Homo sapiens: one gene and its partners. The protein of the gene in region 2 interacts with the protein of the main gene of each other region in a biochemical or structural test. Each region holds a gene or a part of one and is shown on either strand. Other genes may lie near its edges.

The links.
Region 1: the proteins of PPP1R7 (region 2) and UBXN2B form a complex in vitro, tested with the Homo sapiens proteins (2 studies listed by BioGRID).
Region 3: the proteins of PPP1R7 (region 2) and PPP1R3A form a complex in vitro, tested with the Homo sapiens proteins (one study listed by BioGRID).

The regions. Positions count from the first base shown.
Region 1 is NC_000008.11:58,442,275-58,446,028, forward strand, and holds part of UBXN2B (UBX domain-containing protein 2B), read left to right. Parts: intron 1-3,632; coding exon 3,633-3,754. UniProt on the Homo sapiens protein: Adapter protein required for Golgi and endoplasmic reticulum biogenesis. Involved in Golgi and endoplasmic reticulum maintenance during interphase and in their reassembly at the end of mitosis.
Region 2 is NC_000002.12:241,153,425-241,157,178, reverse strand, and holds part of PPP1R7 (protein phosphatase 1 regulatory subunit 7), read right to left. Parts: intron 3,704-3,754; coding exon 3,575-3,703; intron 2,162-3,574; exon of another isoform or gene 1,915-2,161; intron 1-1,914. UniProt on the Homo sapiens protein: Regulatory subunit of protein phosphatase 1.
Region 3 is NC_000007.14:113,912,315-113,916,068, forward strand, and holds part of PPP1R3A (protein phosphatase 1 regulatory subunit 3A), read right to left. Parts: intron 1-3,754. UniProt on the Homo sapiens protein: Seems to act as a glycogen-targeting subunit for PP1. PP1 is essential for cell division, and participates in the regulation of glycogen metabolism, muscle contractility and protein synthesis.

The DNA of each region.
Region 1 (3,754 bases), on a different chromosome or scaffold from region 2:
CCAAATGTTGAATAAGCAAATATCATATATTCTAAAGTGAAGAATTACATAGAACATTTTATATTAAAGATTTACATTAAGAAATATATTAAAAGTTTAATAGTTAACCTTCATTTAGAAAGTAACTTTCTAAAATGGCTTGGTTCTCAAGAGTTCAAGACAATTATTTACTGAGCAGGAAATAAAAAGAAGCAAGTAAAACAGAAATGAAAATAATCTATTGTCTTCCATAGATGGCAGTCTAATTACACACAGAATGTTACATAGATGGGAACTAAATCTTTTCATGTGATATACAATTATGGTGCAAACCAAAATGCTGTAAAAATGTTACATAGTACCCTCACATAATAGAAGAAAGCAAACCATAGATATAAAACTGCAAATTTGCAATGGTAGAACAAACTGTATTATTGAGTAAAAATTAGCTTGGTGAGCTAGAGTAGTGCCTAACAAAATCACAGAGTCATTTTTAATAGGGAGGACTAGCGAGTAGGCATTCTTGGTAGGCTTTTGAGCTGGCGTGTATAATGATAAAAATCATGATTTGAAGCTGATGTTTCTGCAGAAGAACAGTCACTGCCTGTTTGTCCTACTGTTCTCTTCAAAAGATTGTGCTTGCCACTCTCACTTACCTGAGATTTGACTTCATCTGGGGCCCTAGACCCTGAGGGCTGTCTTCTCTAAAACTTCAAAGCCTTACTTTATCTCAGCTCCTCAACAGCTGTGAGCTGACTGAAGCCTGACTGGGTTGTCAGCCCTGTGTGACTCAGTACTTCTGGGGACAGCCTCAGCTGTGCTGAGCAGGCAGTGCTGTGCCTCGCCAGTCTCACAGGCCTGAGCTGCTTTCCTAAACCCCCTCCTCGACCCCTGCCCCTCACTCTCAGCAAATTTCTTTGCTTCCAGCTTCATTGAGAAAATAGAACCTGACGGGAATTCACATTCTTATTATGTTTCCCTCCAGCCTTCAAGCTGGTCATTTCCATCCTCCTCTCCCTCCATAAGTTTGAAGAAGAGGGTGTTTCTCCTGTCTCTGAGGGAATTACAACCTACATCCTTTCCTGCCATTTGCCTACAAACCTTGTTGTACCAATTAATTTCTCTTTTCTTTCTTAAAAAATTTTCTTTTTAATGTAAAAGTTTTACTATGGCTTGATCAATTGAATGATAGGGAGAAAGTTTTAAATAGCAAACAGATGTGATTTTGACAGCTAAATATTAGAATTAACATAACTTGCATGGGCACAGTGGCTCACACCTGTAATCCCAGCACTTTGGGAGGCCGAGGCAGGCAGATGACTTGAGATTAGGAATTCAAGACCAGCCTGGCCAACATGGCGAAACCCCATCTCTACTAAAAATCCAAAAAAAAAAAAAAAAAAAATTAGCCGCATGTGGTGACAGGCACCTGTAATCCCAGCTACTTGGGAGGCTGAGGCAGGAGAATCACTTGAACTCAGGAGGCAGAGGTTGCAGTGAGCTGAGATCACACCACTGCACTCCAGCCTGGGCAACAGAGCAACACTGCATCCCAGAAAAATAAATAAATAAAATAAATTAATTAACATAACTTTTTAGGCTGGTTTTTTAATACCACACTACCAGCTTGTCCAGCTATCTGTCTGTGTGGTTCTGAGCATGTCTTTTAGTCTCTCTGTGACTCGGTTTCTTTTAGATAAAATGATATGGTTGGCCTAAATTATGTTGGAAGTCCATCCATTCCAGTTCTCAAATGTTATTATTCCATATACAATAGTTTCATTGTGACATACACACATTTTCTTACCTAGCTTCCCCATCCTCCATTTTCTGTTTTGAGAAAAAGCATACCTGGTCAGAATCTGCCTTAAAACAGAAAGCAGTAGATTACAAAAATAATAGGGAGGCAACTTGGTGTGTAGAAAGAGCCCAATATAAACCTCAGCTCTCTCACTTACCAATAGGAATATTGGGGGTAACTTTTTTTTTCCAGAGTTGTTGTTAGGATAATTATAATGCTAATAGCCAACTTTTAGTAGTGCCAACTATATAAAAGCACCATTTGAAGTGCTTATGTGTCCTAATTAATTTAATCTTTACAGCACTGCTGCTGTTGGCTCTCAGGCACAATAAGGGTAAGTGACTTGCCTGGTGTTACAGAATAAGTGCAGAGTTGGGATTGAAACCAGGTAATCCAGCTCTGAGAACCATGCTGTTAACACTGCTTCCCAGGCTGATGTAAATGAAATAATGCATGTGGCAGAGGTGGTAATGGTGGTAGTGACGATGATAATGTGTATACCTGGTTATCAGTGAGGCGGAGGTAAAGAGGACCTTTGCATTCAGTGTCTCATGTCTTTTCTCTTGGATTTTCATCCCCCTCCCTTGTGTAAGGAACGCTGGACTCTTGGCACAGTAAACCAGATTGGCAGTGCAATTACTTAGGCCCTCAATTCCAAATTAAAAAGAAATTCCTTAATATCTGATCATTTATTGTAAGTCATAATTTTAACCTTATGTATATTTTTATGTATCCTCAAATCAGTTCTAAAATTAGCATCAGGAAATAGCTAAAGAAAGAGAAAGTGTCAGCAGTTAGTACCAGGTAATTTTATCACTTTACTGTGTACTCTGAGAGAGAAGCTTTTTGAATGGAAGTAAGAGTCATGATGATTTAGATTGGACTAAAGCCCAAATGCTCATAGAACTTTTATACTAGTAATATGTAGATACATGCGTGTCTTTCTTCCAGAAGAAAATAATCTATAGGAAACCATCTAAATCTCAGAGTTCAAGAGAAAAAACTTCAAGACTATCAAAAATTCCTTAAGATGACTGAGAAAATTGAGCTAAATTTATTTGAATTATTTAACCAAAAGAGCACTCCTCTATTTTTGACATTCACTTTTGGCATATACTGGCTGATCATCCTGCTAGTGTTAGAAGGGGCTAAGACAGCAATGCCAGGGTCACTAGTAACCAAGTTCTAATGGTAAGATATTCTATCAAGCTTCATTATGAATTTATTGTCATGTAATAACATTTTATTCCTCAATGGTACTTAGAAGTTATTTCTCTTTTGCAAAGCAGTGCTTGAATCAGATGTGTTTAAATGATATTAACCAAGTCCAAATTAAATGAATTTAGTGCTGATAATATGTTCACAATAGCTGGCACCCGTTGAAACACTGTGTTCTAGGCACAATATTAAGGACTTACTGGTATAATATACCTTCATAACATAGTATTATTCCCTCACTTTATAAATGATAGAACTGGGATTCAAAATGATTGATGTACTTACTCAACTTTACACAGTTGACATGGCTGGGATGTGAAACCATGTCTGTCTGTGCTCTTAATGATTCTTTGACCCTAACTCAGAGTTGCTCGTATTTCTAAATAAAACTGGTTTGCTAAACAGTGATGAAGTTGCAAACAGTTAAATGAGGAAAGGATGCAAAGTTAGGCTTTTATGAGAGATTAGATAAACCAAATAAGAATCGTAGGATCCAAAATAACTTTAATATAATGAAAGAGGTTGAAAGAAGTATAGGAGACTCAAATGAAGCCATGTTCTAAGTGTTTATCGCTGTCTTCAGTTTGTCATATATTTTACACATTCAGATTTGTGTTTAATTCCTCTTTTTTAGCCTTACACCTGAAATAGTCAGTACACCTTCCTCTCCAGAAGAGGAGGATAAATCAATACTTAATGCAGTTGTTCTTATTGATGATTCAGTGCCAACAACAAAAATTCAAATCAGGTTAGCAG
Region 2 (3,754 bases):
TGGTGAACTCACTCCAGCAGAGAAGCCCATTGGATTTCACGAGGACTCTCTACCCCGGAGCCGGCATCCTCTGTGCGGAGGAGGGAGAGAGCTGCTCTCCCTGCTGAGGCGACAGCTTCCCTGTTAAGCACTTCCTCATTTCATTTCATTGGAACCTACTTCAGCATGTGTGCTGAAAAGGACTAAGACACACACAGATGCACACACACACGCATGCACAAAGACACACAGGCACGTATGCACACTACACAGACACACGCATGCACAACAGTGGTATACACAGACTCATGCAGACACACAAACACGCACACTCACCCCTCAAAACACTTAAAAAAATTAACAGTAATTCCTCAATATCACCAAAGATTGTCAGTGTTCGTATTTCCTCAACTGTCTTAACATTTCTTTCCTTAGTTTACTTGCATTATGATCCAAATAAGGCTGTATATTGTGACTAGATGGTATTTCTCTTTTAAAAAACTTTTTTAAATTAATTTTTTTTTAAGAGACAGGGTCTCACTCTGCTGTTCAGGCTGGAGTATAGTGGTGTGATCATAGCTCACTGCAGCCTTGAACTTGTGGGCTCAAGCAATCCTTGTCTTAGGCTCCCAGGAAGCTGAGACTACGGGTGTGTGCTACCATGCCTGGCTAATTTTTTAAAACCATGTTTTGTACAATCAGGGTCTCGCTATGTTGCCCAGGCTGGTCTGGAACTCCTAGCCTCAAGTGATCCTCCCACCTTGGCCTCCCAAAGTGCCAGGATTATAGGCACGAGCCACTGCACCCAGCCCAGCATTTTTCTTAAATTTCTTTTTTCCCCTTGCAGTTTTCTGTTGTAGGAAAACAAGCTGTTTGTCTTGTAGTGCTTCTCCCAGTCTGGAGTCTGTGAATTATATGCATAGGATGTTCTTTCTCCTGTAAACAGATTGTCATTGTCACTACCTTACAGGGCTGTCAGTGCTGTTACTGTGGCTCTTCCTAGAGCAAACGTGCACTTGCTTCTGCAGGGGAGTGAGCTCACACAGCCCTGGACCCCATGCCAAGGGCTGGCTCCTCCAGCCTGGCTCCTCCTCTCACCTGGAGGCCTCTGAGAGGAGCACCTGACATCAGACCAGCTTAACAAAGTCATGATCCCACATGGTTGCATTCACTTCATTGTTTTCCACTATGCCTTTTCTATAACCATCAACTGTGGTTAGTTAAAAAAAAAAGTTTACTATAGTTTATCCACAACTGTAAAGGATACCAACCTAAGAATTAAATAAAAGGAACTGGGCAAAACCAAGAGATAGATAACAAATCACCTCAAAAGACAGTGTCAAGTCACCGTTCATAAACTCAGGAAGTTGCACTGGAAGAGGTGCTACAATTAAGGCAGGGCGCCCAGGTCATGTAGTCCAAACCAGGACCCTTTGAGAGCAGAAGGGCACAGTTATGCTGGGCCAGCAGGCAGAAACGGGCTGTGCCAGGCTCCTCAGGACACACGGTCGCATGGCTTTAAGGGGTCTTGTTTGTAATACAGCCAGCAGGGCTGGCCGCTCACCACTCAAAATGTCAGCTAACCTCTGAAACAAGGTTTCCAGCCTAGAATGCCCTTCTGAGTGTATTATATATTCATCATATTTTAAAAATAATTTAAGGAAAATAGGTAGAAGGTAACAGTTGACATGATTAAATTTGTTTTAATTGAATTTAAGACTTAAATAAATACAGGTAGGAGCAAGTCTTGGCTCCTCTAAGGGCTAGAAATGCATATTCCCAGAAAATTCATAATCAGCTAATCATCTCGAAGAAAAAACTTGGATTTTTCCAGGCCAGGCCAGCTGGTCTGCCTTGTAGCCGTGTGCCCTTGGACAAGCTGCAGAGAGTCTCATTTTCCTCATCTATAACACATTACCACACTGGTGTACTTACAGAACATGATGACAACATGATTAGCCTGTGCTAGTGAGCCAGGGAAAGAAAGCACACAAGGCTTGCTCTGCCAACTCTCAAGTCCTCCATAAACACCCAATGTCTCAGCAGCACCCATCTGAGGATAGCGGGGGCTCCTACCGCTCCACTGTTGGTGACTAAGTCAGGCGATGACGGAAGCTTCCATCTATCACTCCCATGCACTTTATTCCACCCACATCACTTCCAGAACATCAGCCTCAAAGTTCCAAAGTGAATGTGACTGGTACTTTTGTGGTAATCTCCTTGTGACTTAAAAGTAGGTTGCCATAGTTACCAATCATCTTTGCTGGCACAGAGAGCACAATGTTATTTTAAAAATTAGGTTTGTTTCTTCATAAATTTATTTTCATAAGGGATGCATGATTATTCATACACTGTATACAAATCTAGAAAACACAAAATGTATAGATCCTTCTTAAACCTGCTGTTTGGACAGACTCAGCCCGTTTGATGTGTTTTCTTTCTTTAGCAGGTAAAAGTACATACATGCATGCATACTGTTCAGAAACTTTTTTGTTTTGAGATGGAGTCTCATTCTGACCCCGGCTGGAGTGCAGTGGTGTGATCTCAGCTTACTGCAACCTCTGCCTCCCTGGTTCAAGCGATTCTCCTGCCTCAGCCTCCTGAGTAGCTGGGACTACAGGTGCACACCACCATGCCTGGCTAATTTTTCTTTTTTTCTTTTTTTTGTATTTTTAGTAGAGACAGGGTTTCACCATGTTGGCCAGGCTGGTCTCGAACTCCTGACCTCAAGTGATCCACCCGCCTTGGCCTTCCAAAGTGCTAGGATTACAGGCGTAAGCCATTACGCCCGGCCACATCTAGGCACTTTAGAAGTCAATCCTCAGGCCTATAAAAATGGTAAGGCAAGACTCAGAAATAATTTCTCTCAGAGATTAAAGGTTTCTATTGCTATGGTAGGACATAGAAACACAGCAGTCAGCCATAACATTTATTTCGAATCTCATTTCCTAAACATATGGTTAATATAACAATATTGCGGTTCTTTTCTTTTTCCTTTTTTTTTTTTTTTTTTTTTTTTTGAGAAGGAGTATCCCTCTGTCACCTAGGCTGGAGTGCAGTGGTGTGTTCTCGGCTCACTGCAACCTCCACCTCCTGGGTTCAAGCGGTTCTCCTGCCTCAGCCTCCTGAGTAACTGGGATTACAGGCACACGCTGCCACGCCCAGCTAATTTTTGTATTTTTTGTAGAGACAGGGTTTCACCATGTTGGCCAGGATGGGCTTGATCTCCTGACCTCGTGATCCACCCGCCTTGGCCTTCCAAAGTGCTGGGATTACAGGCATGAGCCACTGCATCTGGCCAACAATGTCATGGTTCTGTCTCAGACGGCATACTAGTACCCATATTTGTGCTAGGATTTGCCTTCAGTGGAATTGGAAAAAACCACATCCTTTTTGCAAACGCCATCAATGAGTCAGCCTGCTGAAGGAGCACCTCAAAGAGCATATCCACCTGCCCTGGGCCACTGAGGACCCCTAAGGAGCACGGCAGTCCTTCTCCAGACCGACACAGCACCCACACCCAGGGCCAGACCACGTGCAGCACAGCCCACATCCCCCAACCAGCAGATGTCCCCAAGGGAGCTGGGCCTGGTACCTTCTGGGTCCTCCTCCCCCCGCTCCTCCCCATCCTTCAGGCTCTGTTCACTGAGGTCGGCCACGATGCCACTGCTGTGTTTCTTCCCTTCTTCATCGCCGGATTCTTCAGACTCGACCCGCCTGTCAACTGAACCCACACATGTCAATGAGAATTCACATCCACTTTATGGGACTTTGA
Region 3 (3,754 bases), on a different chromosome or scaffold from region 2:
TATAAGATTGAAATAGCTCCTGCCACCCTCGAGGGGTCTCCATTTAAGAAGGAAAATCTCACACATGTGTGTGCATGTGTACATACATATATAAGCATACAACACACACACACATATATATATACACAAACACATATATGTAAATTTTAGGCAAGGTTACAAAATGAGGTGTCAGATTATAGAGGATTTTTTAAGTTTGATAGGGCCCTGGGCAATCGGATCCACTTCAGATATCTGCCCTTGAGGTCTTTTCCCCTGCATTATTTCCTGTTGAGGGGTAGGGGTAAAAACCTGGAATAGGGATGAGAGTCACAGTTAGCAGAAGTGGAGGAAGGTGAAAAACTAAGTTGACCCACTTCATAACGGTGCCATCTTTTTCTTCTTCCTTTTTTCTTTTCTTTTCTTTTTTTGCCAGGAGCATTTTTGGCTCAGAAATAGTGGGCTCTGCTTTATTTTTACAGGCTGCAGATGGGCTTCAGGTGGGGAGGGATAGGCTCTCAGAGATCCCAGAGGATCCATTTGAGGCATGGCATTCATAGTGACTCCTTTCAGCCACAGCATGAGAGACACCCTGAAGGAGGATACCCTTTTGTTCCTCTTCTCTCAGAAAAGTTTCAAAATCACTCTAGGGAAAGTCTAGGATGGGGTATGGATTTCCACAAAACCAGGAAACCATGAAGCCTTGGTGGACCTCCAAGGAAACTTGAAGCCAGTTGGCACCTCGCTGTCAACCAGCTGGCTGCTTTCAAACACCCTCCTGATGGGCCCTGCACAGCTGTGTTTTATGTTTCCACGTGGCCTTGCCAGAGGTCCCTCCTTAAACAGACCCAGCTTCCACAATTAGTGTGGACTCAAAACGAGTTAGTTATGGCATACGTGAGGTCCCAAAGGCCTCGTGGGGCTATTTACACCTCTTTGGACTATTTCCAGGACCCCAGATTATACTGTATGCGTAAATTAAGGAAGTCTCACAATCCAACAGCTCTGACTGAAACACACAATGTAGCCATATCTTAGACCCCATTTCCCAATGCTTTTCTTGGCCTCATTTTCACAATTTTACCACCCTGAAAGATAAACCCTCTGTATTCTTAAAATTATGTTTTAGAAAGGAGTTCTCTCTTTCCTGTTCCTGAACGTACCTGGTTTTTTTCCTACAGTACAAAAATTGAGGACTAATCAATTTTCTCCTTTGGCATTAAAGTCATTTAGGACTTTATTTGCATTCACCTGGCCAAGTTATAAATACCATCAAACACCTATATCATGCAGTTTCTTTACTTAAAATAATAAATTGGTTTCACTTAATAAAATACAAAACCAGATGAACTCAACCGGTGTACCCAGCCATTAGGAACATACATTTAGCAGGCAGTGGGGAAAAAAAGCCAAGATGCTGAGAAGGGAGACCACCCCCCAGGCCAGTAAGTACACAGTGTCAGCTCTAGGTCACATATTCTAGAAAACCTCAAGTGGAAATAATTCTTATTTCATTTTTTATCTATGGCTTCTACTGTATACCCAGAGAATCTGAACTTGGTTTTGGTGTTTTCTCTCTTCCCTTCATTTCTCTCTGCTTTTCAAGGCCTTTTCCCTTGGGGCCTCTTCTTGTCTTCACAGGCGCCTGTCTCCAGCCACATTTCTCAGTTATCGATACTGCTGCCTAACAACTCAGAACCTGACATACAGTTCTTTAGTAAACATTTGTTGAATAAGTTTTGGAGCCTGAAACAAGGAAACCTATGATGTATGGAGAAATAATGCAAGTTCAAGAGTCAGGACATTAGCTGAACAAGATTTGATAATAAAAGGGACAATTGTGATGAAGGGCTTTTGATGATATCCTCATGTGTGTCTAACATGCTATATTAAAAGCTTTAAGTATATAAACTTATTTTAATCAATGTGACACTAGACATCATGACCCTTATTTGACAGGTGAATAAACTGAGGCTTTGAGCTCTGAAGTAATATGCCCACAGCCACATAGCTACTAAGTGTAAACTTTACTGAAATTAATATGCATGTCTGTTCAATCCTAAATGAATGCCTTTTTATCCCTTTTGGTCTAGTTCTTCATTTTTTCATCTATTAAATGTGGAAATTTTAACATTCCTAAGTTCTCTTCCAGCTTTAAGATAATTCATATATAAAGTGACACATTTCTCAAGAAAATTTACAGTTCAGTTAGTCTTCCTTGTTGATTAAAATCTTGCAAGAGACAAAGGAATGGCTCTCCAAAGCTGAAAATTTAGAAGCCCTGAAATGAAAGAGGAGAAGAACTTTGGTGCAGCTTGAGCCTTGCAGTTTTTCAGATACACCTAAAGCTGAAGTTACCATTGTCTTTTTACAGCAGTTAACATTTACTGATAACTTATTATGTTCCAGACACTGTGCTAAAAGTTTATATGTATTACTTCACCGAAATCTCAACCCCTATGAGATAGAGCTGTAGTTGTTCTCAATTAACATACCAGAAAAACAAGCTTAACTTGCCCAAGTTCATATTGCTAGCATGTAGGAGAGCTTGGATTCAAACTCAGATATCTTTAACTTTGAAGCCTAAAATCCTAACTTTGAGGTTATATTGTTTTGCATGCCATTTTAGCTTATTTGTCTATGTACATTTAATGTGATTTATATCAATGTCATTTTTGTCATTGATTTTAAAATAAAACCCATCAGATATATCAGGAATCTGCTTAGTTTGCTAGCATATGTGGTGATACTTAAGTATCTCATGATGCATGCCTTTCGGTGCAATTAAATATCTTTGGGTCACTCTCAATCACATGCCTATGAGTTACAAGCTCTGCCTCCCCTTCTCTCTACATATTTCTTTCTGTCCAAAGTGTACAGACTATCAGGCATCAAAAGAAAATAGACAACCCACACCAATGTGGAGATTTGCAAACTCTTAACATGAGAAAAATCTCCATAGAGAAAACATAATGCCTGGGTGGGTGATTGACTTAACAGAAATCCTACCTAAATGTATTTCCACATTCATTCATTCCATACTTATTAGAAGGGATTATTGACACTTTCAGAAGATACAATCTCAGGCACCCTGATAGCAAATTAACTTTTTTATTAAGAAGAATTGAAGTTAGCTGTTATTCTCTACACTAGGGCAGCCTGATTTTCATTTTAGCTATGACTGATATTACATACTATTACTAATCTATTTGCAGGTATAAAGAAAAAATCATATATATATATGTATGTATATGTATATACATATATACATATACATATATACATACATATACATACATATATACATATACATATATATACACATACATATATATACATATATATATTCTGTTTTTACCTTCTGAAAGAAATAACCTCCAAATTAAGCTACATAGGAAGTGTAGAAATGCTCAGAAATGACCCATTTAGATTCTGTAACTATTTGGAGAGAAGAGATTTTAGTAGCTATAATTTTTGATCAAATAAGTATTAGTTCATTTTTATTTTAGTCAAGTACACATTTTGTAAAATAACACCGATAAGGTGTGCTATTTTTCTCTAACCAAACTCTTCACAATAAAATCCAACTGCAATATTCATTTAGAAATTTGATAATGCTCTCTTGTGTGAGTTTTAGGAATATTTGAAACCCCATTGCATATAAATTATATCATGGAAAAGCTGTATAAATATTCTATTATGGCACATGCTGTTCTAAGGATCTGTCAGGATTTCCTTTATACACTCCATTTTGAGTGGTATATAAATCAGATGT